7 separate regions of the Homo sapiens genome follow, and regions 2, 3, 4, 5, 6 and 7 are each linked to region 1. Evidence: fine-mapped expression QTL. A gene starts in region 1. Each other region holds a variant in brackets. All regions are shown on one strand. Distances are from middle to middle.

Region 1 (4,069 bases):
AAGGCAAGATCCACCAATGGATGTGAAATTTAGCAAGGGAAAGTCTGAGGAGAAACAGGATATGCGTACGGTTTAAAAGCTCCCCCCCAAGATGTCAATTATAAGGAGAAAAATAAGACCTTTACATTGGAGAATCCCAGCAGACACTCTCTACCAAGTGATCAAGATTAACCTCACGAGCAATAAGTCATATATATCAGCTATGCTCATATGATGAACTGAGAAGGGCACACACACTTTTGTGTTCTTAACAAAAATGTATAACCTTAATCTAATCATGAGAGAACACTGGACAAACCCCATTTGAGGGGCACTCTACAAAATAACTGACCAGCATTCTTCAAAAGTGTAAAGATCAGAAAGAGTATAAAGACAGAAAAAGACTATCAGTGTAAAGACAGGAAAAGACAGAGGAACTGTCACAGACTGGAGGAGACCAAGGACCCAAGACAACTAACTGCAATGTCGGGTCTTAGAGTGGATCCTAGAATAGAAAAAGGACATTAATACAGGAAAAAAAATCACAAGTTAGTAATTCAGTTAATAGTATTATACTAATATTAACTTCTTGCTTTTGATAATTGCGCTATGGTATGTAAAAAATTATTAATGGAGGCAATAGGGAACTCTGTATTACTTTTGAAACTTTTCTGTAATTTTAAAATTATTTCAAAATAAAAAAGTTTTTTAGTATAAGAGGATGTTTCACGTAAGACAGGTAAAAACATTTAGAAGTCAAAGAACTGCCATCGTATTCACTGCATTAATACTTGGAGAGAGGGGTGCCAGGACTGTGCCAGGTGCTTTACAAACTTTATCATGTAGTGCTTACAACTAATATGAGATGGGTACCATAATACTCATGTTTCCCAGTAAGTTACTTAGGAGGTTATTAATAAGTGAAAGACCCCATTTCTCAGGAAACCCAGCCCCCAAAAGTGACGAACACCTTCCATCGGCCCAGAGCTCCCACTTTTCAGGATACTAGTGGCGCCCGATTTCTTCCGGCCCGCCGCTTAATGTTTCTGACTTATGGAAGAGATACCGAATTTGGAGAGAAAAGTCAAAGTAAAGTCTCCTCTCTGAACCTCGGTTAGCTAAAAGGAGGGAGCCAAGGTGTGGGACCTTCTGCCAACCACCTCTGGGTTTGGCGAGCAGGGGCTTCCGGCCTCTCGCTCCCAGTCCTCCGAGCCTCACTACCATCGAGCGTCGCGTCATTCCTCGCAGTGTCACCCACAGCACACCTGGGCCACACACACCAAACGCCCCCACCAGCGAACGGATGCGCGGGTCTGTCCCGGGACCCAGACGCCAGCGACCCTGGCGACCCGGGGCCTACAGCGCGCCAGAGACAGGACGCGCGCCGGAAACTTTTCCACCCCGCGACCCCGGGAGGCCGTCCTGCTCGCATCGTCTGCGGCCTCCCTATACCAGCTTCCAATAAAGCTTCCAAAAACGAAACCAAGCGAGGCTCCGCCACTTCTGAAAAACAGGAGGAGCCACCATGGCGCTCGCACTTCGGATCCAATGCCCTACTTGCCGCCCAGCGCCTCTTGCGCGCGCCACACGGGCGCCAGGCCCACCAAGCCTGTGAGGGCCCGACGCCCCCAAAGGCGGCCTCCAGAGAGCCCCTTACCTCCCGCCGGGGCGCTCGAGGCCGGTCGGTGGGCACGGCGCAGGCGCAGGAGCGACGGGGCGGGGCATCACGAGGGGTGGGCAGGGTTGGGCCCCGCCCCCGCCCCCGCCCCCGCCCCGCAGGGCCCCCAGGCCGGGCGCTGGGGGCGCACAGGTGAGTACAAATGCGGACGCTGCTGAGAACAGCGAAAGCCTTTTTCAAAAGTGATATTGATTTACGTTATGGGGTTGTGACTCGAGCCAAGAGGAGAGAGACGCACAAACGCTCTTTAGGTCTGCTTGTTGTGTTTAAGACAATTCATGCTTGTATGGCCGACTGCATTTCGCAGTTTTCCTGTCCGTTTTCCTCTGTTCTTCCTAGAATTTTATTTGCGGGTTGGGCATGTATTCTTAGCTCTGTTTTGAAACTGAAGCTCAGAAAGGTGGTGCCTCCCCATCCCGTCCCCAAAAGCCCTGTGAAGTGGACAGGGCAGGAGTGCCATCTTAATTGCAACAGGTGTAAAAATTAAAGCTCAGCAAATTGTGGTTTCCTCCAAAAACTGGTGGAGGGCTTAAGGCAAACGTCTTTATCCCGATTTTATAGATTATGACTCTGGGGTTTAACAAAGAGTTTTAAGTGACTCACTCCAGTTCAGCCAGCTTATGGCAGAGCTGGAACTCCAACTGGGTGTCCTAATTTCCTTCCCAAGTTATTCCAGTTAGACCAGCTGCAACCACATGAACAAGCAGGTGGCCGGCTTTGAAGCCTTGTCCAAGTCACAGGTCCTCCTCTCTTCATGGCCTAACTTCCAGATCCAGCCCTTTTAAAAAGATGTCTGTGAATATTCAGATGACGTGCTTAGAATGTATTCACTAATGGCATTGTCTCAGAAGTGATCAGGATGTTCAAACCACAGTTAAGGAAACTGAGTTCTTAGGGTCTTCCAGTAGAGTAGGAGGTAAACAGGGAAGATTAGGGGCCTGTAGATCCTTTAAAAAGCCTTGAAAGACAATTTCTAAAACAAAGCACCAAATCTACCAAGCAATTTGGATTTTCTTTGGGGACATAATGTATACTGATATTTGTTTTACAATGAGCTCCAGAATGTATTTATCAAATTTTGATTCTAAGGAGAAAAATTAAAGTATTAGGCAATACTGTGAGAAAATGTTTTTTATGCAAGGATCAGTGAAATAAGATCTTTTGAAATAAAAGATCATTTGTGTTAAGTTCTGAAAAAGCTTCCTCAGGTACAAAATCAGGAGGTGTGGTACTCAAAGATTCTAAATTTGGACCTGGACTTCTAAGTTGTTATATGTATGTTTGCTGTAAGTTAGGTGTGTCAAAGTAGTAGGATAAACATTTTTTTTTTTTTTTTTTTTTTAGACAGAGTCTTGCTCTTTCGCCCAGGCTGGAGTGCAGTGGCATGATCTCAGCTCACTGCAACCTCCACCTCCCAGATTCAAGCGATTATCCTGTGTCAGCCTCCTGAGTAGCTGGGACTACAGGCGTGTGCCAACATGCCCGGCTAATTTTTTGTATTTTTAATAGAGACAGAGTTTCACCATGTTAGCCAGGATGGTCTTGATCTCCTGACCTCGTGATCCGCCCGCCTCGGCCTCCCAAAGTACTGGGATTACAGGTGTGAGCCACCATGCCCGACCAAAACCTTTTAATCTAACTGTTGGTTAGCTTGATTTATAATCTTTAAATATTCAAACATATGGTGTGTGGACCTCTTTTGTGTACTCTAGGTCATCAAGTTGTTAGGGGCAGGCCTGCTACTACTGGCCGACATTTTCCTGAAGTCCTAACTGAACCCAGCAAGTCCAAACAAAACATTAAGTGTATATGTTGGAAAGAAAATTAAAAAAAATTCTTAGGGTGTTATGATTGATTGCTTTCTTGGAAAATCCATGGAATAAACTGAAACTAATTCAATAAGATGGCTATAAAATACCTCTCCTAAACAACAATCATCAATTTTAAAATGTAATGAGAAGAAGACTGGGCGTGATGGCTCATGCCTATAATCTCAGCACTTTGGGAGGCCAATGAGGGAGGATTGCTTGAGGCTAGAAATTCAAGACCAACCTGGGCAAAATAGTGAGACCCCATTTCTAAAAAAAACAAAAAAAACGTAGCTGGGTATGGTGGCATGTACCTATAATCCCAGCTACTCAGGAGGCTGAAACAGGAGGATCAGTTGAGCCCAGGAGTTTGAGGCTGGAATGAACTATGATCCCACCAGCCTGCACTCCAGCCTGCAGAAAAGACTGACACCCTGTCTCAAAAAAAAAAAAAAAAAAAAAAATTGAAATGTACTGGGAGGAAGATTACATTCAAAAATGACAAAAATCAAGTTTGTGTTTATAAGGAATTACAAGACCTATTTGAAGAATTGAGAATAATAGCTAGATGAGGGATAGGGGTGGAAGGAAGGATCACAAAGGG
Region 2 (4,069 bases), 97 kb before region 1:
AAAATTCATTTAAATGCCATTTTTATCTCAAAAGATTAAATTACACAGAGGATGATTTGTAGTCCTATGGCAGAATGAATTACCCCACTGAGTTCTAAATATTTCAGTGGAGATGTGGTTGTTTGGTAGAAGATTCCCAATCCTAAAATTACCTAGGAAGCCTAGATTTGAGTCCAGCCTTGGGAAAGTCACTTACCTCCTCTGTTCTTGTTTCTTCGTATATAAAAAATGGTTAATGATACCACCTACCTAATGGGATTGTTATAAAAACTAATGAGAAATAATGATTATGTTATAAACCATAAAGTAGTGAGAAATCTTAGTTGTTCTTACTTTATCTATGCTCAGAAAGATACCATTCAAGCTATCAATTCATTAAATATTTAGCTATCTCTTCTGTATGACAGACATTGTGCTAAGAACCAAGGGTTTTTACTGAGACTGGGTCCCTGCCCTCAAAGAATTCATAACCAAGTAGAGGAAAGGGACAACCAGGTTAACAGGCAATTGTGTTTTACTAAGGGATAAGTGCTCTGACAGAGATCAACAGAGTAGTACCTGATCCAGGATTTCTGGCGATATTGATGCCGAAGGTAGGTATAAAGTTTTGTAGAAGTTTATCCCGAGGTGAGAAGGAGATGGGGCTTAGAGAAAGGTGACCTTGGCAAGAACAAGTTCAAGGGCTGTTGGTGAATATAAATGGAAAGGTGAATGCTGAGGGATGAGGTCAAGAGAACTAACACATGAAAGTCCTTACATGCTGTGTTAAGGAATTTTGACTTTATCCTGAAAACCATGAAGAGCCAATGAAAGGTTTTAATCAGGGAATGACATAATCAGATTGTTTTTTAAAGATTACTCTGGCTGCAATTTGGAAAATAGATTAGAGGGGGTCAAAATAAAATCTAGGAGACTGTTCAGTAATCTAGTCAAGAGTTGATTATGAAAGTTAATCTCAATGGACATCAGCAAGATGACAGAAAAGGACTTTCCATGTTCGTCTCCACACAGAAACATCAAGTTGAACATACATCCATGCAGAAAAATACCTTCACAAGAGCTAAGGAAACCAGGTCAGAGATAGTAGTACCTGAGAGTAGTAAAGAAATGATGCATTGAAGAGGCTAAAAAGGACAGTTTTATGCTACTTGCACCACCCCTCCCCCAACCCCAGGCAGCACAGTATGGAGAGAGATACCCTTCATGTGGGGAAAGGAGAAGGAAGTTAGCACTGAACTTTTCCTCAGACCCAAACACTTGGCTTGTCCTGGTAAAACCCAGTGCCAGAAAGGCTTCTGTGGCCCCAGACTCCAGGCTGGTACCCATGAACTGAGCATTTAGTCCCATCCTGGTGCCAGGCAATATCTCCAAGCCCCAGGCTGGATTCCAAAGCTGCAGGCCCGAGGCCTGCCCAGCAGACTCAGTCTCTGGACCTATTCCAGCACCAGGCCAAACCCAGTGGCTTCAGGCTCCAGACCAGCTGCCCACAGCCCTGATCATGAGGCTAGCACTCACAGACCCAGGGTTCAGGCTTATCCTAGTAGACTCCAGTGATGGACCAGCCTCCATGGACCCAAGTTCTAGGACTACACTTGTGGATCCAGGTTTCAGACTGGCCCCTAAAGCCCCAGGACCCAGGCTAGACTTTGCAGACCTGACCCCCAGGCCAGCACCTGCACACTCAGCCTCCAGGCCAACACAAGTGGACCCAGGCTCTAGCCAGACTCCTAAGCTCTAGGCTTTCAGCCAGCCTCAGTGGCTTCAGATACCAGGCCAGCAACCATGATCCTACACTCCAGACAAGCTGCCATAGATCGTGATTCCACACCTGCCCCAGCACTAGGTCAGCTGCAGGTTCCAAGGACCCAAGATCTAGGTTTGCTCCAGTAGACAGAGAGTCCAAGTTCACCCTAGTAGGCCCTGGTTCTAGGCCAGTCTCCATGGACGGAAGCTCCAGGACTATCTCTGCAGACCCAGGCTCCAGGCCAGCCCCTGTGGACTCTTGACCCAGGCCCACTCCCACAGACTCAGCCTATCCCAGTGGACCCAGGCACCAGGCTCATCCCAGTGCCTGGCTGGCCCCTGCAGACTCAGGCTCAAGGCCTACCCCAGTGCCAGGTCAGCTCTAGTGGACCCAGGCTTCAGACCCACCCTCTTAGATGCAGGCCCATTCCACAGAACCAGACAACAGGTCCACTCCTGTGGACCCAAGTTTCAGGCTTAACTCCATGGACCCAGGCACCAAGCTCACCCACCTGCTGACCCAGGCACCAGGCCAGCCAGTGTGAAGACTCTTAAGAGCAAGCCAACCTATGGACCATA[G/C]CAGGCAGCTGGACTAGAATCCCTGAATTGACTGACTAGTGAAGGGCTTTCCCAGACAAAGCCAGTCAAAGACTAGAATAAGTCTCTACATCTTCAAATGCCCAGACATCAATGTAAGGCAACAAGAAATGAAAAACCAAGGAGACATAAACGTAACATCACCAAAAGAGCACAATAATCTCCCAGAAGCTGACCCAAAGAAATGGAGATGTATGAACTGCCTGACAAAGAATTCAGAATAATTGTTTTAAAAAGTAACATCCATGAACTTCAAGAAAATACTGAGAAACAATTCAATGAAATCAGGAAAGCAAGTTACCAAAATGAGAAGTTTACCAGAGAGATTGAAATTATATATTTCTTAAAAATTAAACAAATTCTAGAGCTGAAGAACACAATGAATGAAAAGAAAATGTAATAGCATCACCAACAGAATTGAACAATTAGAAGAAAGAATTTAAACCTGAACATACAGGTTATTTGAAAACATACAGAAGAAAAAAAGAATGAAGAAAGTTTATGGAATTAATGGGACAGCACCAAAAGAGTAAATATTCAAGTTATAGGAGTAAATGAAGGAGAAAGGAGAAATAAAGGGGTAGAAAGCTTATTTAAAATAAAAAAAGCTTTGCAAATCTGAGGAAAGGTATAAGTATCTAGGTACAGGAAAGTCAAAGAACTCCAATCAGATTTAGTCCAAAGACTACGCCAACACATAAACTGTTGAAAATCAGGGACACAGGGAAGATTCTGAAAGCAGCAAGAGAAGATTATGAAAGCAGCAAGAGAAGATTATGAAAGCAGCAAGAGAAGATTCTGAAAGCAGCAAGAGAAGAGCAAATAACATATAAAGGGGAGTTCCAGTACAGCTAGCAGCAGTTTTCTCATCAGAATCCTTATAGACCAGGAGAGAGTGGGATGATATGTTCAAAGTCTTTAAGGAAGAAAACTGCCAACCAGCAATATTATATTAATACCTGGCAAAGCTGTCCTTCAGAAATGAGAGCTAAAGACTTTCCCAGATGAACAAAAGCTGAGGGAGTTCATTACCATCAGACCTGTCTTAAAAAGAATGCTAAAAGGGAGTTCTTCAGGCTGAAAGAAAAGGACAGTAAGTACTAACATGAAAACGTGAAAGTATAAAACTCACTGGTGAAAGTAAGTATACAGTCAAATTCAGAATACTCTAATTCTGTAATGGTGGTATATAAATCACTTATAGCTTTGGTATGAAGGATAAAAGACAGAACTATTAAAATAATAATAGCTACAATAATTTTAGGGATACACAATATAAAAAGATGTAAATTATGACACCAGAAATTTAAAATGTGAGGAGGGTAGAGTAAAAGTGTAGTTTTTTTTTTTATGTGAATAAAGTTTTTATCAGCTTAAAATAGCCTGTTATGAGCATAGGACATAGTGAAGAAATGTACAAAATAAAATAAAAATTTTAAAAACCCTATTATAATTATATTTTACGTAAATCTCATGGTAACCACAAAGCAAAAAACTTTAGTAAATACACGAAAGATAAAAATTAAGGAATAAAGCCTACCACTAGAGAAAATCACCTAATCACAAAGGAAGACAAGAAGAGAGGAAGAAAGCAACAAAGGATCTACAAAACAACCAGTGAACAATTAACAAAATGGCAGTAGTCTTTACCCATCAATAATTAATTTGAATGTAAATGTCTTAAATTCTCCAGTCAAAAGACAGAGACTGGCTGAATGGATAAAAAGCC
Region 3 (4,069 bases), 82 kb before region 1:
ACGTAGTCTCATATTTCTTGGAGGCTTTGTTTGTCTCTTTTTACTCTTTTTTCTCTAACCTTCACACTTTATTTCATTCATTTGATCTTCAATCACTGATACCCTTTCTTCCACTGGATCGAATCGGCTACTGTAGCTTGTGCATGTGTCACATAGTTCTCGTGCCATGGTTTTCAGCTCCATCCGGTCATTTAAAGTCTTCTCTACACTGTTTATTCTAGTTAGCCTTTCATCTTTTTTCAAGGTTTTCGGCTTCCTTGTGATGGGTTCGAACATCCTCCTTTAACTTGGAGAAGTTTGTTATTACCGACCTTCTGAAGCCTACTTCTGTCAACTTTCCTGCTTTGTTCCATTGCTGGCGAGGAGCTGTGATCCTTTGGAGGAGAAGAGGTGCTTTGGTTTTCAGAATTTTCAGCTTTTCTGCTCTGGTTTCTCCCCATCTTTGTGGTTTTATCTACTTTTGGCCTTTGATGATGGTGACCTACAGATGGGGTTTTTGTGTGAATGTCCTTTTTGTTGATGTTGGTGCTATTCCTTTCTGTTTGTTAGTTTTCCTACTAACAGTCAGGTCCCTCACCTGCAAGTCTGTTGGAGTTTGCTGGAGGTCCACTCCAGACCCTGTTTGCCTGGGTATCACAACAGCAAATATTGCAGGAGGGCAATTATTGCTGCCTAATCCTTTCTCTGGAAGCTTCGTCTCAGAGGGGCACCCAGCTGTATGAGGTGTCAGTCGGCTCCTACTGGGAGGTGTCTCCCAGTTAGGCTACACGGGGGTCAGGGACCCACTTGAGGAGGCAGTCTGCCTGTTCACAGAGCTCAAACATGCTGGGAGAACCACTGCTCTCTTCAGAGCTGTCAGACAAGGACGTTTAAGTCTGCAGAAGTTTCTGCTGCCTTTTATTCAGCTATGCCCTGCCCCCAGAGGTGGTGTCTACAGAGGCCAGCAGGCCTTGTTGAGCTGCGGTGGGCTCCACCCAGTTCGAGATTCCTGGCCGCTTTGTTTACCTAGTCAAGCCTCAGCAATGGCAGGCACCCCTCCTCCAGCCAGGCTGCCACCTCGCAGTTCCATCTCGGACTGCTGCGCTAGCTAGCAGTGAGCAAGGCTCTGTGGGCGTGGGAGCCACTGAGCCAGGTGTGGGATATAATCTCCTGGTGTGCCGTTTGCTAAGATCATTGGAAAAGCGCAGTATTTGGGTGGGAATGTCCTGTTTTTTCCGGTACAGTCTGTCATGGCTTCCCTTGGCTAGGAAAGGTAAATCCCCCAATCCCTTGTGCTTCCTGGGTGAGGCAATGCCCCACCCTGCTTCGGCTCGCCCTCCATGGGCTGCATCCACTGTCCAACCAGTCCCAGTGAGATGAACCAGGTACCTCAGTTTGAAATGCAGAAATCACCCGTCTTCTGCGTTGATCACACTGGGAGCTGCAGATTGGAGCTCTTCCTATTCGGCCATCTTGGAAGGGTAATCCCAGTAATAGATTTTTTTAAAGGTGCTAAGGCAATTCAGTGGAGAAAGAATAGTCTTTTCAAGAGATGGTGCTAGACTAACTGAATGTCCTCATACCAAAAAAGAATTTCCTTCTATGAAAAATTAACTTAGAATTTATCATGTACCTATATGTAAGATAAAACTAGAAAACTCTTAGAAGCGAACATAGGAGAAACTCTTTATGACCTGGGGTTTCACAGAGAGTTCTTAGAGTATCAAAAGCACTATCCATAAAAGGAAATCATTTATAAATTGGTCTTCATCAAATTAAAAACTTTTGTTCTGTGAAAGATACTGATAGAATGTAAAGAAGATATAGGGATGGCAGATAAACACATGTGAAGGGTGCTCAACATCATTAGTATATATTTTTTAGAATGCCTAAATTAAAATACTGATAATACAAGGTATTCATGAGGATGTGGAACAACTGGAAGTTTCATACATTGCTGGTGGATTACAACATGATACAGTCACTCTAGAAAACAGTTTGGCAGTTTCTTCAAAAGTAAGACATATACCTACCATATAACCTGGCATTTATTCTAGACAAAGTTCACAAAAACTTGTGCACAAATGTTTGTAGCAGTATTGTTCATAATCACCAAAATCTGGAAAGAACTTGAATGTCCTTGAATGGATAAACTAATTGTGTATCTACTCAATGGGAAATACT[G/A]TTCAGCAATGGATACAGGAACAGATCTTTTTATACATACAAAAATGGCTGAATCCCAAATGCAATAATGCCAAGTGAAAAAAAAAAGCCATTCTTATAATTACATGTTGTATGATTTTCTAGAAATGACAACATAGAAGGTCAACAGTTGCCAGGGGTTATGGGAAATGGAAGAGTCTGACTTAAAAAGGGTGTTGGAATTGTTCTGTACCTGATTTGAGAAGCTGGTAGCAAAATGCTATGCACATGTTAAAACTCATAAAACTTAAGCCTAAAAAAGTGAATTCTGCTGTATGTAAATTTTAAGAAATAAAAATACGTATTACCTTGTATTCATTTGTCAAAGTTTGTTCATACACTTAACATTTGTGCATTTCACTATGTCAAAATTTTGTGTCACCTAAAAATAAAGAATTGTAAATAAACAAAAAAGTAACTGGAGGATGGGAAACACTTAGGTGTTCTAATTAGAACAATTTTGCCCTAAAGCGTGATATATATAATTTTATTTATTATGGCAAGGGCCCATTTATTTTCCTGTTTAGGAGATTACCACGTAGTCTATTTTCTTGACAATTTAGTGTTGATTCACTGAATGTTACTTCTTAATAATGATGGATAGTTTCTGGCCACAAGCTAGATAAGAGCTCTTTTATAATCTATTTTTCTACTGCATCAGTTCAGATTCATCCTATCTCTCGTCTTTTCCTTTTGCACACATTCTTTCATCTGTTGACAGTGGAAAAAAATCAGCTTGGAAAAATGTGTTTTGAGTGTTTTCATGAATTTCTCACATTTAAGATTTAATCATAAATTATTTCTTGACTAGCAGAAGCAGTTCATACTGTATTAGTTGTGATAATCTTTGGCCCTCATAAAACAAACTAGCAGAGGCTTTATCTTAAACATTATAGACCCCATTTGCAATGCTATGGATTGAATGGATATATTTTAGCACTTGCTGTGGGTGACAGTAGATGATGTCAGATTAAATTTAAATTGATCTCCTCTCAATGTTTATCTCTGGTGCATGTGCAATTACTTCAGCACCAGAGAACCTTTCAGAGGCATTCTGTCAATACAGCTACCTGACAGTCATTTGTATTTGTAAACTGTGCATTTGGCACCTGCTGGTCTCTGTTGCATTGGAGCTAGTGGGGAGCCAAAATGGGTATACAATGAAGTTATTGGTTGGTACATCTCAGTGGGAGTTATTGAAGGGAAGAAACAGCACTTCCGGGACCTCAAGAGAGGATAAAAAGTAAAAGAAACTGGTAATATTAACTACAAGCCAGCTATTGTTTGCTACCAAAAAAATAATGATTTTAAAAGTCAATCAATTCTACCCAAGGAATTAAAGTGTATATGGACCTGCATTTTAATTCTTGTAACAGAATGAAAAAGTGTTTCTATTTAAAATATATAATTAATTTTTTAAAGCACCAAGATCTCAGAAGGCAGACAATTCGTATGAGCAGAGATATAAATTCAGACAAGCAATGAAAAAAATGCTTAATTTGTGAAGAAATGTAAATTAAAATGCAGGTATCTTTTACTTATCAAATTAGCAAAACCAATTTTAATTTAAAAAAGACATGCTTGGCAAGACTTTAAAGAACAAACAGGTAGACAGATAGTAAAAACCAACTGATGTTTTATAGGTATAATTTGCTCACACTTGGTCAAAAGCTCTTATTTGTTAACCCAGTAATCCTACTTTATTGTATATAACTCAAGGAAATATTACAAAGAAGAAAGCCTGGTACATAAATTTGTTTAGCTCAGTATGGTGGTGTCTGCTACAGTGCATTGTTTCTGTGCTGCAGATTTGCTCATACATGATTGGTAATTAAGAGAATAGTGTCCATAGAAAGTGAAGTTGTGTCAGTTTATATATCATTATCCT
Region 4 (4,069 bases), 260 kb after region 1:
AGTTAATATTCCATTTAGAATTTTGCATCTATATTTTCAGAGGTAGTGGGGCCAACAGTTTAATTTTTTGTTCTGATCTTATCCAGTTGTGAAAATTAGATTATATTAGTTTTAGAAAATGATTTAGACAGCTTTATCTCATTTTCTGTATTTTTGAAACAACCTGTGTAAGTTAGAAATTATCTATTCCTTGAAATTTTGGCAAAATGCACCCATAAAACCAACTGGGCCAGGCAACATTTGAGGGACGGGGATATGTCAATTTCATAATTGTTTTGATAAGATCTAAGTTTATTCCCCACTATTTTGTCATGTCTCCTTTTTTCCCTGTTTTTATGGCTCTCTGATCATCTTGTGTGGAAATCTAATTTTTGCACCCGAACAAAAATATCACACAAAATTTTCTAACAATGGCTTCTGTCTCTTGCGAAGATTATCTACAGAAAATTGCTTCTTCTTTTAATTTTTAGAATAATAAACTTCCTCACTTCTTCTGCATTCTTTTTTATAGGGCTTGTGTTGTGTATGTTTGTGTGTGTGTTGTATTTACTCATTTTCAAATAAGAGAATTATCTATAAGAGAACTTACAAAATTGAAATGCATGGCTTCTCCCTCTTCTGTCTTCTATACCAAATCCCTTCTTAGATCTACAATTAGTAGTATTCAATTCTGAGCCCAATTCTAGTGTTTTTCCAGCATTCATATATTATGATTCTGCTCACCAGAGGTGCTATCTTCTGTTTTCTCTTTCTGGTTTTCTGGTACTCTGAACCAATGGAGTAAATGACAGACTGTATTCCTCCAAATGAATTTGCTTTACCAAGGCTTTTTCTTTTTTTTTTTCCCACCTGCCTATAATCCTTTTCTGAAGGAGAATTTCCATTCCAGCCACTTACGCAATTTTTTTTTTTTTAATTTGAGACAGAGTCTTGCTCTGTCGCCCAGCTGGAGTGCAGTGGCACGATCTTGGCTCACTGCAACCTCTGCCTCCCGGGTTCAAGCGATTCTCCTGCCTCAGCCTCCCTAGTAGCTGGGACAACAGGCTCATGCCACCACGCCCAGCTAATTTTTGTATTTTTAGTAGAGATGGGACTTCACCATGTTAGCCAGGATGGTCTCGATCTCCTGACCTCGTGATCCATCCACCTCAGTCTCCCAAAGTGCTGGGATTACAGGCGTGAGCCACCGCGCCCAGCCAATGTTTGTATTTTTAGTAGAGACGGGGGCCTCACCATGTTGGCCAGGTTGGTCTTGAACTCCTGACCTCAAATGTTCTGCCTGCCTCAGCTTCCCAAAGTGCTGGGATTACAGGTGTGAGCCACCGCGCTTGGCCTAATTATGCTTTTTTATTATAGTAAAACACCCTTCCCCTTTGTAACAATATTTTCCTAGAAGTGCCTTCTCTGAATGACCGTAGATAGAAGAGAAGGTTGAAAGAAAAGTCATAAAAAAGGAATATCATAGTAACAAAATGATGGCTACTCAACAATCTGGTTGGTCCTGACCTTAGTTTTCTGAGCCAGGGATAATATTGTGAATGAGAGACTAGTGTCCTTATATTTTATTTTAACTGTTGTTTGGACTTCTAAAAAATTTTATTATTGTTGTTAAGCAGAAGGAAGCCACCAGTTGTATCTCTCAATTCAGCTCCAGAGGACTTGTAGATAGTGAAAATTCCTTTTGGATTCTGGCAACCAGCTTGTCTACATGTCTGTCTTGTGAGTTGTTTTTAATTCTGGGCTTCTCTTTCTTGGTAATTTTATTGGGCTTTTGGAAGTAACTGCATCAGGGATTGCTAATTTGATTCAATTTAAAAAAGAAGTTCCACTGCAAATGAATTTAAAAATAATTTTTTCAAGTTATATAAGGAATAGTTAAGATTCACTTTTGAATTGCTTTAATTTATAGATTAACCTATGAAGGATTTTCATCTTTATAATATTTATTCTTTCCTTTCCAGAATTTTTATTCACAGTTTAACATAAATTTTACATTCTTTTAAAACATCTCTATTTTACATTTTTGTTGTTGGTATAAATTGTTTTTATTTTAATTTCTGGTACATTTAATGATATAGAAATGGAACAGAGAAATACTATGGATTTATATAAGTATCTTATCACTGATTACTTTGTTGAACTCTTTTAATAGCTTTGATAATTTTATAGGTGATTTAAAATTTTTTTCTAGGTATACAATAATATTGCCTGAAATTGACATTTTATTTTTCCTCCCTGATATCTAAAATTATTCAAGTGTCATTGCATTTGTAAGTCTGAAATGCAGTATTAATTAGTAAACAGTGAAAACGGGCATTTAAATTTTGTTTCTGTTCTTAATGGGACACCTCTAGTGTTTTCTCA[A/G]TTACTTAGAATGTTAGTTCAGGATTTTAAGTAGACAACTCATTTGTGTTGAGTATTCTTCCACATTGTAAGGATTTAATAACTTTTTTTTGAAGTTGAATTAAATATCTTTCTATTTTTATATTTTCTGCTGAAAACTCTTAAATAAGTTCTGGTGTTTTCTTGGAAAACCTTTAGGTGCCTATTGAAATGTGGTTTTTATTATTTGTACTATTAATGTGATAAATTGTTTTGATAATTTTTCTGATGTTGAATATTCCTTAAATTCCTGTGACAAATTCCATTTGTTCATGGTGTGTGTTTTTTTTGTAAATATCTGAATTGCTTGCATTTTGTTTAACATTTTGGCATGTATATTAATAAATAAAATTGGCCGGTAGCTTTCAAAATAGTATGGTTATCAGGTTATTTAGATCCTAGGTAATATTTTACTTATTGTTTTACCATTTTTTAAAATGTTCGAAGTGGTTTATATAATATTGACATTATTCCCTGATCATTTTAGATAACTTATCTATAAATGTATATAATCCCTCTGCTTTCTTTGATTTTCTCTCTAATTTGTTTTTCAGTTTTTATCATATTTTATAAATAGAAATTATTCATTACATGAAATTCATTCTCATACAACTGTGTAGTCACTCACTTTAGTTTCTATTTTGATTATGTATTTTTTCTCACCTTTATTTCTTTGTATTTTACTTGATTAAATTTTTGGTGTTTATCAGTTTTTAGCAACTCAGATCTTGGTTTTATTTTTTAATTATATTCCTGTTCAATTTTCTGATATCCTTATTTAATTTTATTTTTTCATTTTCTTATTTTTGTTGAGGTTGTCTTTTTTCTCATAGAAGCGAATAAACTTATGTAAAAATGTTTCCAAATTGTCTCCCATGTACCAGGCACTCTTCTACATGCTGGGGATATGAATAATGGTGACCAAAGTTCTTGTCCTTATGGGACTATATCTGTGTCTGTATCTATGTCCACACACACTCCATAAGTATACGTAATATCATATACAAATAGTATATAATAAATTATATGTATATTATTGTGGCAAGAATACTTAAAATGAGACCTACCCTCTTAAATTTTAAGTGTATAAAACAATATTATTAGCTATGGGCACAATGTTGTACAACAGATCTCTAGATATTAATACATTTGTACATGCCTATAGAAATTATTCATCTTGTGTAACTGAAAACTTATTCCCATTTAACAGGAACTTCCCATTTGCCCCCTCCCTCAGCTCCTGGAAATCACTATTCTACTTTCTACTTCTATGAGTTTAACTAATTTAGATACTGCATGTATTAATAAGTGTCATCATGCAGTATTTGTCCTTCTATGACTGGCTTATTTCACTTAACATAATATCCTTAAGGTTCATCCATGATGTTGCTTATGGCAGGATTTTCTTCCTTTTTAAGGCTGAACAATATTCCATTGTGTGCATATACTACATTTTCTTTATTCATTCATCTGTCAATAGGCATTTAGTTTGTTTTCCCTTCTTGACTATTGTGAATAATACTGCGATGAACATGAGAATATAAATATCTTCTCAACATCATGATTTCAATTTTTTGATAAATATTCGAAAGTAGCATTATTGGATCAAATGGCAGTTCTATTACATTTTTAATGTTTTGAGGAAACTCCACAGTGTTTTCTATAATAGCTGCAGAATTTTATCCTT
Region 5 (4,069 bases), 340 kb before region 1:
TGAGAAAGTAGAGGGGAAGAACTATGAATACTATTCAGTATTTTTGGAAATAATTCGTTTTTGCATTCTCAGACGTATAATATACATAATTATCAACACTAGTAGTAATGAGAGCACATTCTATTTCTTGAGTACCTGCTCTATGCTAAGGTATACAGCAGGCACTTGTCATAAATTTTCTCTAATCTTTACAACAATCCTGGAAGAAAAGGTATAATTATCCTCATCTTACATATGAAGAAACTAAGATTAAGAAACTTGTGTAAGGTAATACAGTTTAGCAAACTGCACAGACAAGATTCTAGCCGAGATTGTTCTAGTTCCAAAGCCTTGCCACACTGCTTTAAGGACAATTACACGTGGCTGAACACTAAGATGTTCTTAGTGCTATAAAAGTAATATAAAGATGAAGTATTCTTACAGTAAAGTAAAATGTTATGCTTAACATTAAAATAAAATCTGTATAAAACTTCAGATGTGACTAACAACTTAAAAAAACCTCAGGCTATCACTTGCATCACAGAGTGAACAGCATGAACCATTGTTAAAAGATAATTGCTACATAAAAACAGACAAATGAGTCTAAGTAAATCTGGGCAAAGCTGAATAAGATCAGGGATTGTATCAATGTCAATTTCCTGTTTATGATATTGTATTGGATGTTATCATTAGAGTGAATTAGGTGTAGGAGTGCAAAAAGCTTATTGGAAAAATAAATAAATAAATAAATAAAAACAGAGTGAACTAGGTGAAGGGTACATGCAATCTTGTTGTATTATTTCCTACAACTACATATGAATCTACAATTATATAAAAATAACAATTTTCACTAAGAAAAAAGAGCATTGTCTTGTTTTACTTACAGCAAAGTTACTCTGAGCAGCATAGTGCAAAGGTGTGGCTCCTTGGCTGTCAGATGGGATAGTTCCAGACTTATTTCTTTCTAAAAGGAGATGGACAATCTGTGCATGGCCTGAGAAAAGACACAAAAAGGTAATTATCACTTATAAAGGATGTTAATTAATTTATAATCTATTTAAATGAAAAAGATAAGAAAAATCACTAACATAATACAGCATTCACAACGGTTTCTGAACAGCAGCCCCCAATGCAGCCTCTTCTAACTTCTCACTAACATATTAATATGAGGTAGAACAGAATGAAAACTTACTAAAAACTTAATGCTTCAATCAGGTAGGAATGAATTAAGTATAATTGCCAGGCTGAGAAAAAACTATATTAGGTATCACCTCATTGCATTTCCTGGCTTCACTTTATAAAGCTGCCTAAAGCAAAGGAGGGGAAGGTGCTTTAGAGCCAAGCCCTCTTAGCCTTCACTGCTCCTACTCTCAAGGTTCCGTTGCCCAACCAAACAGAACTGCATAACTGTTCTCTTCTATTCAGGTGGACAAACTATAACACAACCTCTTCTATCTCTGAGGCTTCCCATCCCTATATTCTCCTTTCCACAATCTTTTATTATATTTATATTTTATAACATCTAGGCAGTGATTTCAAATCTCAGAAAACAAGTGGGCAGGCATGATAAGGCAGCGATGAAGACAATGTAGTGCATTCTGGAGGATGTGATCTCCACAAGTGAAGAGCTGTAGAAAATATTAAAAAATGAATAAACCTGGTAGTAGCATACGTAGGAAACCTGAAATTTCATACACTCTATTGCTTTCAGATATTGGAGAATGAAGAAGATGCCCCATTAGCAGAGCAAGGATATACTGCATAAAAGCCAAGCAGAGAAAAGTAATTTGAGTGGAAATTGTGTTCATCTATCTGCTCTCCAGAGGTGGTCTAAGATGGAGTTCTCCATAACACAAATGTGGGATTAAAGACAATCTTTGCCACATAGTTACTCTAAACACATATCATTTTGTTTGAGAAATAAAGGGAAAAATTCAGTAAGGACTACAAAAAAACATACTATAGGAAAGTGAAAAAGAAACACTGTCAGGAAGATAAGCAGCATACCTCTGAAAATGATCTAGAGAAGGATCCAGAGGAAAATTTCAGGCAACTGGTATCCTCGACTTAGTGCAAAAAGAGATGGCTTCTATGAAACAGAAACAGGGTATTCTAAGAAGAAAACAGAGTGAAATGAAAAAGTAATGGAAGGAAGTTAAAAGGAAATGAAATGAGATAAAAAGAAATATAGGTAAGACAAGGAAATAAAAATAGAACCCAAAATACAATCTATATAGGAGGCAGAAAGAAAGCAAAACTTATAGAACAAAAAGTCAATTTAGTTACATGGAGACAAATTTGCCAAGTAAGCCCAGAATCCAGAAGAAAAATAAAAAGGGATGTAAGATGAAATCTGAATAATAATTCTAAATCTGGCGATAAAAGTGAGTGCACATATAAACATCATTTAAA[A/C]AAAAGATAATGTGTAATTTAAAAACTAAGATCAAGATTATAATAATTAGGGGGAAATCTCAGATTACATTAACAAGTACTAAAAGAGTGATGAGTATCTGTGCTAAATTTTTTGTCTTAAATAGGTGGGAATCAATAGATGCATTTTTGCTCTTGACTCTGATTCAGGCTTTAAAAAGTTTTTGATAAATTTAAAAGTAGCCACTCCTAAACCCTCCTAAAACATTAGGCAATTCAAAATCAAATAACAACATCAAATCTAATCCATATACCAAAGAGCAGAAAGCAAAGGAAACAGGAAACAAAACAAAACAAAACGTTAAGCTGAAAACACTAAGAATAGAAAGATAGCAGGAAAAAAAAAGACCTGATTATTTATCTTATAACAATGACTATTAATGGGTAAAACTCCTTCATTGAAAGAGAAAGACTCTCAGATTGACTCCACACACAAAAAACCCCAACATACACATAAAACATACACATATATACACTCTCTCATCTATAAAAGTGATCTTCAAAAAGGTTAAGTAAAAGGCATTTCAGGAAAATATAAAGAAAAAAACTCAAATATCATAGTATTAGCATAAACATAAAATTAAAGCCCTCCTCCCCAAAAATATAGGCGCTGAATGTGAAAAGAGGTTTATGTTACATTCACATGTTGTCACTAAATGTGAATTACTTTTATAACAAAAATTTAAAGTGAAGATATGATGTTGAAATTAAAACTAATATTTAACATAAAATAAATTTATATTACTATAATTTAGTTTATAAAACAATGCAACATATCAGTTAGAAATCAAAATAATTAACTAGGAGTTGGGAGTAAACAGTGGAAGGGAAGGCACAGAAATATTCCTATACTCATGAAGTTCCTTTTACTGTTGATCCTTTGAGTCACGTACCTAATAAAGCTGCCCAGTGCAGTGGGGTTCGAAATAAGTTATCATAAGACGTTATATTGCAGCTTTCATATGAGGTCAAGACATCAACCACGGTCACATTCCCATCAGCAACTGCAAAGTGAAGAGGAGTTCGACCCTCGTAGTCTTGCCAGTTCAGTAAAGACTCTGTTGGAGCAGCATCCTGATTTGAAGGAACCAGAGACTTCAGACATACATGGAATCCTCAATAAATTACATTTGGTGTAAGTATTTTTTTCTTTCTTTCTTTTTTAGAGACAGGGTCTTGTTCTGTCACCCAGGTTGGAGTACAGTGGCATGATCACAGCTCACTGCAGCCTCAAACTCCTGGGCTCAAGCAATCCTGCCTCAGCTTCCCAAGTAGCTGGGACTACAGGCACATCCCACCACACCTGGCTAATTTTTGTGTTTTTTGTAGAGATGGGGTATTGCCATGTTTCTCAGGCTGGTCTTGAATTCCTAGGCTCAAGCAATTCTCCTACCTCAGCCTCCCAAAATGCTGGGATTATGGTGTGAGTCACTGTGCCCAGCCTGGCACAGGAATTAACTGAGGAATTTTCGAAATAAGACCTCTACATTATCTCTCAGCACAAGTGATAAATCATGGAAAAGGTACAAAGTCTAAATCTTTAAAAAATTATTTTCATATTTAATTATAAAAAGTACAGAAAATAATATAACCATTACATACTGATTATCTAGATTAAAAAGGTGTCAACATTTTGCCTGATATGCTTTTGTTTCTGTTA
Region 6 (4,069 bases), 76 kb before region 1:
CAAATGGGAATAGGAAATAGGAATCTAAAGCAGATAAATCAGTGAAGAAATCAGTGGATTCCAATAACTATCCAAGCCTTCCTCTGTGGCTGGAAGATTGACCACACTATAAAGAAAGTAATGATTTGTTATTCTTGCTAAATCATTCTAAGAGCCTTCACAAATACACTATTCATAATGCTCAAAACCTTACAGTTTAATGCAGCTTTCCCATTTGTGATTTAGAATACTTGACAACTATTTTATCAAAATTTTATGTTCTTTTATGTTTTTTTTTACCTGAGAATTTTACTGTTTCCACCTTGTAACTTCTGTTACAAGTAATTTCTATGTTCCTACTGTACTAAACAGCCCTAAGTTTGCATTTTGATAGATTATGATTTCTATCATGCCTATTACCATGATACCGAGAGGGAAGATATGTACCAAAACCCTCTATTTCATATGCTCAGAACTTAAATCCATTATTTTGCCTATAAAACCTCTATTTATAAAAGGAAAATAAAAACTGAGTTTTTCTTTACCTTATTTAAGAGTGAGATTAGGTTCAGAGGCAAGAATTCCCTATAGGAATCCAACAACATGCTTTTTCCTTTAAAAATTAGGTCAGATTTTTGATAATTAACAACTATAGGAGGCAAACTTGTTGGCTATAACCCAAAGGTGATTATTTTCCTCAGAAAAGAAGGCCTGCATAGTATTTTATCAGATTAGGAAAAGATGTCATTTACCGTTATTGTATTATCCTGATTTGTTTCAATTTCCTCATTAGACAGTGAACTTACATTTGTTCATCTTTGTGTACTAACAGAGGGCACCAAATAAATGTTTGTTTTATAGTAATATAATTAATTTCAGCTTATTTCAGCTTAATCCAAACATATATCTCACTGAAAAAATTAAAAATGTATTGGGAAAGAGGAACATGATAAAGTCAAATGATAAGTTTGTAGACACATTGCTTCCTGTTAGAATTAATGTGCCATTACATATAGTATGTAATATATGCACTGTGTGCCTATGTCAACTACAGGGGATATTAAAATGAGGAGAACAATCAGGCCTGCTCTTGAGGTCACAATTTGGAAATAGAGGATAGACTGCACTGCCTTTTCTTTTTTTTTTTTTTTTTTTTTTTTGAGACGGAGTCTCGCTCTGTCGCCCAGGTCGGACTGCGGACTGCAGTGGCGCAATCTCGGCTCACTGCAAGCTCCGCTTCCCGGGTTCACGCCATTCTCCTGCCTCAGCCTCCCGAGTAGCTGGGACTACAGGCGCCCGCCACCGCGCCCGGCTAATTTTTTGTATTTTTAGTAGAGACGGGGTTTCACCTTGTTAGCCAGGATGGTCTCGATCTCCTGACCTCATGATCCACCCGCCTCGGCCTCCCAAAGTGCTGGGATTATGCCTTTTCTTTAAAATTCTTGGAAATAGCTCGTTTCACTGTGTATTTTTGTCTGCTCTTGGTACACAAGTAAAATACTACAGAAATTAATTTCTTTCAGCATTGAAGTGTTTGCTTTCCTCTTTATTTCAACTAAGTTGTAATAATTTCTGGTATCCTGGTAATTGATAACTAAGATAATATCTACAGAGTGGATGCCATTAATTCTCTTAGCAGTCACGTGCAGAAGGGAAGGGTTTGGGCCAACCTAGGGTTGTGCTGTCTCTGTCGACTAGTCTAGGAAAGCACCCAGGTGTCAGGTATTTTGGTCCCTTCCACCACACCTCAGCAAATGTAAAACAAGCCCACAGTTAATGGCCCTGTGGCAACCCTGCCCTGGAGAATCTCAATAAGAGCATTTGAAATGAGGAAAGCAAGATTTCACATTTAAATATCTTGCTTTGGCACACAGTTGCTTTTATTGATTAATAAGCAAATAATTATAGGGGAACTACTATTCATCGAATACACTTATTAAAATATTATAGCACCATAAACTATATTGGTATAAAAATGTTTTATTCTTTCTTTTGTAGCAAGCCCAAGATGTAGCAAGCAGTCCACCTGAGAGCTCCTTCCAGAAACTAGCACCCAGTGAATATAGGTATACTCTATTGAGGGATCGAGATGAGCTTTAAAAACTTGAAAAACAGTTTGTAAGCCTTTCAACAGCAGCATCAACCTACGTGGTGGAAATAGTAAACCTATATTTTCATAATTCTATGTGTATTTTTATTTTGAATAAACAGAAAGAAATTTTGGGTTTTTAATTTTTTTCTCCCCGACTCAAAATGCATTGTCATTTAATATAGTAGCCTCTTAAAAAAAAAAAA[C/AAAC]CTGCTAGGATTTAAAAATAAAAATCAGAGGCCTATCTCCACTTTAAATCTGTCCTGTAAAAGTTTTATAAATCAAATGAAAGGTGACATTGCCAGAAACTTACCATTAACTTGCACTACTAGGGTAGGGAGGACTTAGGGATGTTTCCTGTGTCGTATGTGCTTTTCTTTCTTTCATATGATCAATTCTGTTGGTATTTTCAGTATCTCATTTCTCAAAGCTAAAGAGATATACATTCTGGATACTTGGGAGGGGAATAAATTAAAGTTTTCACACTGTGTACTGTGTTTTACTGATTGGTTGGATATTGCTTATGAAAATTCCATAGTGGTATTTTTTTGGATTCTTAATGTGTAACTTAAACATACTTTGAAGTGGAGGAGAGTCATAAGACAGAACATTTGGCAGGAATTGTCCTTATGAAACAAGAAAAAGAAAATGAAAAGTATTATTAAGCTTCTGTGTTTGTCTAAAAATGTGGCATATGGATGGCATTTAAAACTTTGAATGAATTATACCTAAATCTGGGACAGGGAGGTGACAGTGGAACAGGCTACCAATCAGAACTAGATGACTTTTAAGGCTCCTCCTATTATGAGACTTCAATTTCCAAAGAGAAGAACTAGCAGAGAAATTGTATTTCAGTAATTTTAAGCTCCTTCTGTCTTGTAGAGTCTTGTTATAGTTGTATAAATCAAAAACACAGAATAAGGAACATATTTAACTTTTTTTCATTATAAAATGGTTAGAGGACCCTACCCCCTCTAGATTCCCTGATTTCCCCAGGCCTGCAGCATACAGTAAGATGGGTCCCTGTGCCAGGCCTCAATACTGCCAGGGAATAAAACCAGAGGGAGAGGACCCTCAGTGTCATATCAGGAAGCCCAGTGCCAGAGGACAGACAGGTTCAAAACTGGCTTTTCCTCTGGGCCTGGGTTGGTGCTATAGGCCAAGGGTCATTTTATACTTGGGTATAAATCAATCCCAGTTTGGGAAAAGATTATTTTTAAGCTTAAAAGGCTGACATGTGCCATTATATGTAGTATGTAATATATGTAACATCTTCCAATTCTTTTAAAATAAAATTAATATTTATAATGGATATTTAATGATTGTTATTTTTAAAAACCAGCTTATAATTCCTCGTTATGCATGATTTATCCAAAGTTTCCATAGTTTTATTCAAAATAATAAATGTTAATAAGGTGATAAGGGGTATATTTAATGTATTGTATCAAATTGTGAATAAGAAAGTAGGATGGAGCTTTCTAGAGGTTGGGCCTTAGTTCTGTTATCCTCATTGCTTTTAACCAATAAGTTAAATGAAGTTAGAGTTATGGTCTTCAGGTTAGATTATGGACCAGATCTGTGAGGGTCAGCATGGAAATTCACATTCAACAAGGTAGCACACAGGACCAAGAGCAGCACATGCAATCAACTGGAATAATATAGTAATCCTGTAACTGGGTTTGAAAAAATAATCAACAAAAGATACAATTCAAGGGTTAGGTTGCAGAGAGCTGGCTTGAGAGTAGTTATTATGAAAAAGGCCTCAAGGAGTACGTGTTCAGTATGCTCTAAGATGATAAAGTGGCTGTTAAAAAGGGAGTTGATTTGAGGAAGTATTACTTAGCATTCATGCATATTGGGCTTAGGCTCTAGCCCTGCCACTATCATTGTCTTCTCTGGACTGTGAAGTCACTGAGGACAAGGAAACTAAATTTAATGTCTGTATCACTAGTGCCTAGAATTTCTGGACACTTAGTAGTCACCATCAGGCGTTTATTTAATGAA
Region 7 (4,069 bases), 380 kb before region 1:
GTCTGGGATGGTCTCGTAACTTGCTTTGATCAATATAATGTGTGCAAATTCTAGAGTCTATTTCTCAAGAGGTCTTGTGGCTTTTATCTTCGCTTTCTGAAAATGCTGTCCTGAGACCACAATGTAAGGAAGCCAGTCTAGTCTACTGGAGGATGAAAACCACGTAAACCAGAGTCAAGGAATCCCATCTGATAGCCAGCATCAATTGCTAGACATTTAAGTGACTATATCTTAGACATGGAATTCCACTGACTCTCCACCTGAATGCAGACACATGAGTGAGACCAGATGAAGCCCGTAAACAAACTTCCCAACCAAAATAGAATCATAAAAATTAAATTGTCATTGTTCAAAGTCACTTTGTTTTTGTGTGGTTTGTTATACAGCAGTAGATAATGGAAGCAACCCTACTCTTACAGATCTTGCAGTTTGGTGGAAAAAATGACAAGTAAACCAGTAATAACAGTAAAAAGTGATGATCTTTATAAGAGGGAAGTATAGGAGAAGTATGGAAGCAATAGCAGGAAACTATAGCCTCCTTTAGCGGGGAGATATTGGTTGAACAGAAGAAGAAACATTATCCCTGATATCTAAAAAATAAGGTAGAGGGAGTGGCATCTGCAAAGGCCCCAAGCTAAGAAAGAACTCAAGGAAGTTCAACATGGCTGTCACATTATGGGAGCTTAATTAAAGCTGGTTGGATGAATAAATGAATGAATATGTACCAAAGCATCATGAGTATATAATCCTTAAGGATTACACTGTAAAGTGGATTATGGAATTATATTCCAGAAATGTTTATATTCATTTTAGATATATATATTTTTTGAGACAGAGTCTCACTGTCACCCAGGCTGGAGTGCAGTGACGCAATCTCGGTTCACTGCAACTTCCGCCTCTCAAGTTCAAGCAATTCTTGTGATTCAGCCTCCTGAGTTGCATGCACCACGATGCCTGGCTAATTTGTATATTTTTAGTAGAGATGGAGTTTCGCCAAGTTGGCCAGGCTGGTCTTGAACTCCTGGCCTCAAGTAATCCACCTGCCCCAGCCTCCCAAAGTGTTGGGATTATAGGTGTGAGTCACTGCACCCGGCCTGTAGTCATTTTATGTATACTTTTCTGTAGTTGTTCTTGGCTAGATTAATGAGTGGCTCAATAATAATAGTTACTGAAAACCTATGATGAGTTATGGGCTATAACAAGTACACTACATGAATTATTTCTATCCATAGCTACCTTGTGGTGTAGAAAGTATACCCTCACTTTATAGCTAAGGAAGTTAAGGTTCAAAGAAACAGATTGAACTGTCCAAGCCCTGAATTCAGTAATCATGAAGTTCCAGAGCCCCTTTCTGAGAAAGTCCATAAGGTCAGGGCTATTTTCATAATAATACGAAGACATTATTTGCCTTTTTCACTGTGTTGGCATTTGCACTTAGATTTTGGGAAAGCTCCTACCGTTCTCTAACTTATAAGAGTAGCTCAGTGTGTTTAAATTGCTTCGTGCAAACAATAGGGTTCGTGCTGCACACCTTTCCTTCTGGGAGTCTGGAATTTTGGCATATGCTAGGCAGAGGGTATCTATGTGACTGACTCCAGATAAAAATCCTGGAGTCCTAGGTTCATGTGAGCTTTCTTTGTCAACAAAAGATTGTCTGACTGGTTGTTACAATTTATTGCAGAAGGAATTAAACGTGTTGTGTGTGACTCCACTGGGAGAGAGCCGTTGGAAGCTCGTGCCTAATTTCCTCTGGACATTGCTCCATACACCTTTTCTCTTTGCTCATTTTGCTTTGTGTCCCTTTGTTATAATAAATCCTAACTGGGAGTACAACTATATGCTCAGTCAAACTAGTAAATCCTCCAACCTCACCAAACCTGGTGGTAGTCTTGGGGATGG[G/T]GATCATGGGGATCCCTGACACACAAGTAAACTCTAAATAGGATAAACTGCAAAAAGCCATGCCAAGACACATCATATTAAACTTCTGAAAGCTAATGATAAATTTTAAGATCTTGAAAGCAGCCAGAGAGAAATGACATATTACCTAGGACTGTTACTGAGAAACACCAATTTGAATGACAGTGGATTTCTCATCTGAAACCATGGAAGCCAAAAGGAAATGGCACAATATTTTTCAAGTGCTAAAAGAAAAGAACTGCCAACCCTGAATTCTATATCTGGCTTAATGATTCTTCAGGAATCAAATAAAAACATTCTCAGACAAAGGAAAACTGAAAGAATTTGTTGCTAGCAGACATACCCTTAAAGATTGGCCATAGAAAGCTCTTCATACAGAAAGGAAATGATACAAGAATCTTAGAGCATCAGGAAGGAAGAAGAAACAACAGAAGAGCAGAAATACAGGCGGGCGCATAAAATGTTATTTCCTTTGTGAGTTTTATAAATTGTATTTCATGATTGAAACAAAATTTATAACACCATCCGATACCTAAGCAATGAAACGTAAAAGTGGACAAAGTGAATGGAAGTGAGGTTTTCACACTTCACTCTAAAAAAGAAAAGAAAACAAAAAACCATAAATCAATCAAGATAGAATTTTTAAAAATGCTGAAGTAACCTACAGGAAGGGAAAAAAAAGAAAAAGAACTGAGAACCAGAGGAAACAAGTAGAACACAAATCATAAAGTGGCGGTCCTAGGTGCTAATATAACAATTATCTTAAGTGTAATTGGTCTAAATACACCAATCAAAAAAGCCCACAGTCCATGGGCCGGCAGAAGATGACAAAGGCAATACACCTACCATTTGGCCTTCTGGAGTTTGTTCCCTGCAAATCTGAGGAAACATGCTGCTCCTTCTGGAGGGCTCCGCCTAGAGACCCTCCTGGAGATCCTCTGCTGTCTCTTGGCTCAGGGCCTTGGGCCACGTTGCCAGCAGGAGGCTGCTTGCTGGGGGCCCGGCTCTGCCTGCTGGGCACATCCTGGGTGCTAGGCAGACAGGGAAGGGCCTGGGGTCTGCAGGAATCTGGGCTCCGCCTTCCTTTTTGCTGTTCTGCCTCTTTTCGTTTGTTTTCTTCCTCTCGCTTTCTGGAAGCAAAGCCAAAGAAGAAGATGAAAAAATTTAAAGAGTATCACCTCCTCAAGTCTCTGTGTGAGTTTAAATTTTAAGAGGAGCTACTACATCACAGGAGATATTTGGAAATTTGCATTTTCCAAGAGCAGTCTTTTCTCCAGATAAAATAAAAACCATCTCTTTTACACCAGGCCTTATAGCCCAAAAGATGATGGAGCAGAAAAGTTTATAGATCAGTCTTTGTGCTGTTGAGACACATGACAGATAACCAGGCAACTTTTCTGTGTGAAACATAACACACTCCCAACGGTGTATGTGCCCCAAGCTTATGTGTGATCCCTGGAGCTACCTGTAACTCCACCCATTTTTCTCCTGTTTCAGAAAGCACACCAGAATGCTACCGAGAATGACAGTCAAAGGGATAACCTTGAATCTGCTCTATTCATTTAAAAAAGCCCATCAAACCTTAATGATCATATAAAAAGTCACTTGCAAAGTACCTTGCCAGTGATTAAAACACACCTGTGAGTTGCAGATGCTGCCGTTGACAGCTCTAGCTAATGAGTCAGATCCACTCATTTTACAGATGAGACCCAGAAGGTAGGGTGATTTTCAAAAAGTCACACATAAGTAGCTGGTGGCAAAGCTGGAACCCTTGGGTAGCAGGAGAACAGAGAAGGGCTGGGGAGCAGGGGCCCGTCTAAAGATGAGTAGCTGGGCGAGGCAGGTGGGTCTGAGGTGGCTCAGAAAGGTAGCCCAGGCCCCTAACTCAAGACAAAGGGGCCGAGTTAGGGGCAGGATTTGTTTGACCATTGCTGTTAACTTGTAGGGATTCCCAAGGGAAAGACAGGAGGAAAAACACTTAATTTCTGAGTCTCTCTCTGCTGGGCACTGAAGATACAGAAATGACAACCACAGATTTCAGGTCCTCTCCTGAGGAATCTTCTACCCAGAAGGGGACAGCCAGGAAAACAAAGACCTAATATATGATAGAAGAAATGTTATATTTTGTATTTATTTATCTTTTTAAAGACAC

Direction of the effects. Positions count from the first base shown, and alleles are read on the strand shown. Sizes are in standard deviations (SD) of each study's normalised expression. Not every link is listed here.
With allele C in place of AAAC in region 6, the expression in monocytes after Pam3CSK4 of the gene that starts at base 1,689 in region 1 is lower (large effect, 1.3 SD a copy in Quach 2016).

What was found.
Region 2: its variant is fine-mapped to the expression of STX17 in whole blood (INTERVAL, PIP above 0.99).
Region 3: its variant is fine-mapped to the expression of STX17 in whole blood (TOPMed, PIP 0.99).
Region 4: its variant is fine-mapped to the expression of STX17 in blood mononuclear cells (TOPMed, PIP 0.90).
Region 5: its variant is fine-mapped to the expression of STX17 in whole blood (TOPMed, PIP 0.96).
Region 6: its variant is fine-mapped to the expression of STX17 in monocytes after Pam3CSK4 (Quach 2016, PIP 0.95).
Region 7: its variant is fine-mapped to the expression of STX17 in whole blood (TOPMed, PIP above 0.99).

What each region holds. Positions count from the first base shown.
Region 1 is chr9:99,904,274-99,908,342 of GRCh38, reverse strand. STX17 (syntaxin 17) reads right to left here and starts at 1,689. Exons shown (of 8, transcript NM_017919.3): 1 at 1,637-1,689. STX17-DT (STX17 divergent transcript) reads left to right here and starts at 1,742. Exons shown (of 3, transcript NR_038853.1): 1 at 1,742-1,789. RefSeq lists an enhancer at 1,151-1,390 and a silencer at 1,551-1,950.
Region 2 is chr9:100,001,754-100,005,822 of GRCh38, reverse strand. The region is part of intron 10 of ERP44 (endoplasmic reticulum protein 44); the gene reads left to right. Among named protein-coding and RNA genes, the nearest start is that of ERP44, 95 kb to the left of the region's middle. The variant G/C (reference allele first, on the strand shown) is at 2,323.
Region 3 is chr9:99,985,951-99,990,019 of GRCh38, reverse strand. All of the region lies in intron 10 of ERP44 (endoplasmic reticulum protein 44), which reads left to right. Among named protein-coding and RNA genes, the nearest start is that of STX17, 81 kb to the right of the region's middle. The variant G/A (reference allele first, on the strand shown) is at 2,164.
Region 4 is chr9:99,643,063-99,647,131 of GRCh38, reverse strand. The region is part of intron 3 of LOC101928438 (a long non-coding RNA gene); the gene reads left to right. Among named protein-coding and RNA genes, the nearest start is that of NR4A3, 180 kb to the left of the region's middle. The variant A/G (reference allele first, on the strand shown) is at 2,365.
Region 5 is chr9:100,239,474-100,243,542 of GRCh38, reverse strand. It overlaps INVS (inversin), which reads right to left. Exons shown (of 17, transcript NM_014425.5): 6 at 3,303-3,483; 7 at 864-973. Among named protein-coding and RNA genes, the nearest start is that of TEX10, 110 kb to the left of the region's middle. The variant A/C (reference allele first, on the strand shown) is at 2,392.
Region 6 is chr9:99,980,622-99,984,690 of GRCh38, reverse strand. It overlaps ERP44 (endoplasmic reticulum protein 44), which reads left to right. Exons shown (of 12, transcript NM_015051.3): 12 at 1,978-4,069. The coding sequence ends at 2,079. Among named protein-coding and RNA genes, the nearest start is that of STX17, 76 kb to the right of the region's middle. The variant C/AAAC (reference allele first, on the strand shown) is at 2,275.
Region 7 is chr9:100,283,298-100,287,366 of GRCh38, reverse strand. INVS (inversin) reads right to left here. Exons shown (of 17, transcript NM_014425.5): 13 at 2,764-3,047. LOC124902235 (a long non-coding RNA gene) reads left to right here and starts at 3,046. Exons shown (of 2, transcript XR_007061700.1): 1 at 3,046-4,069. RefSeq lists enhancers at 2,430-2,930, 2,931-3,431. The variant G/T (reference allele first, on the strand shown) is at 1,900.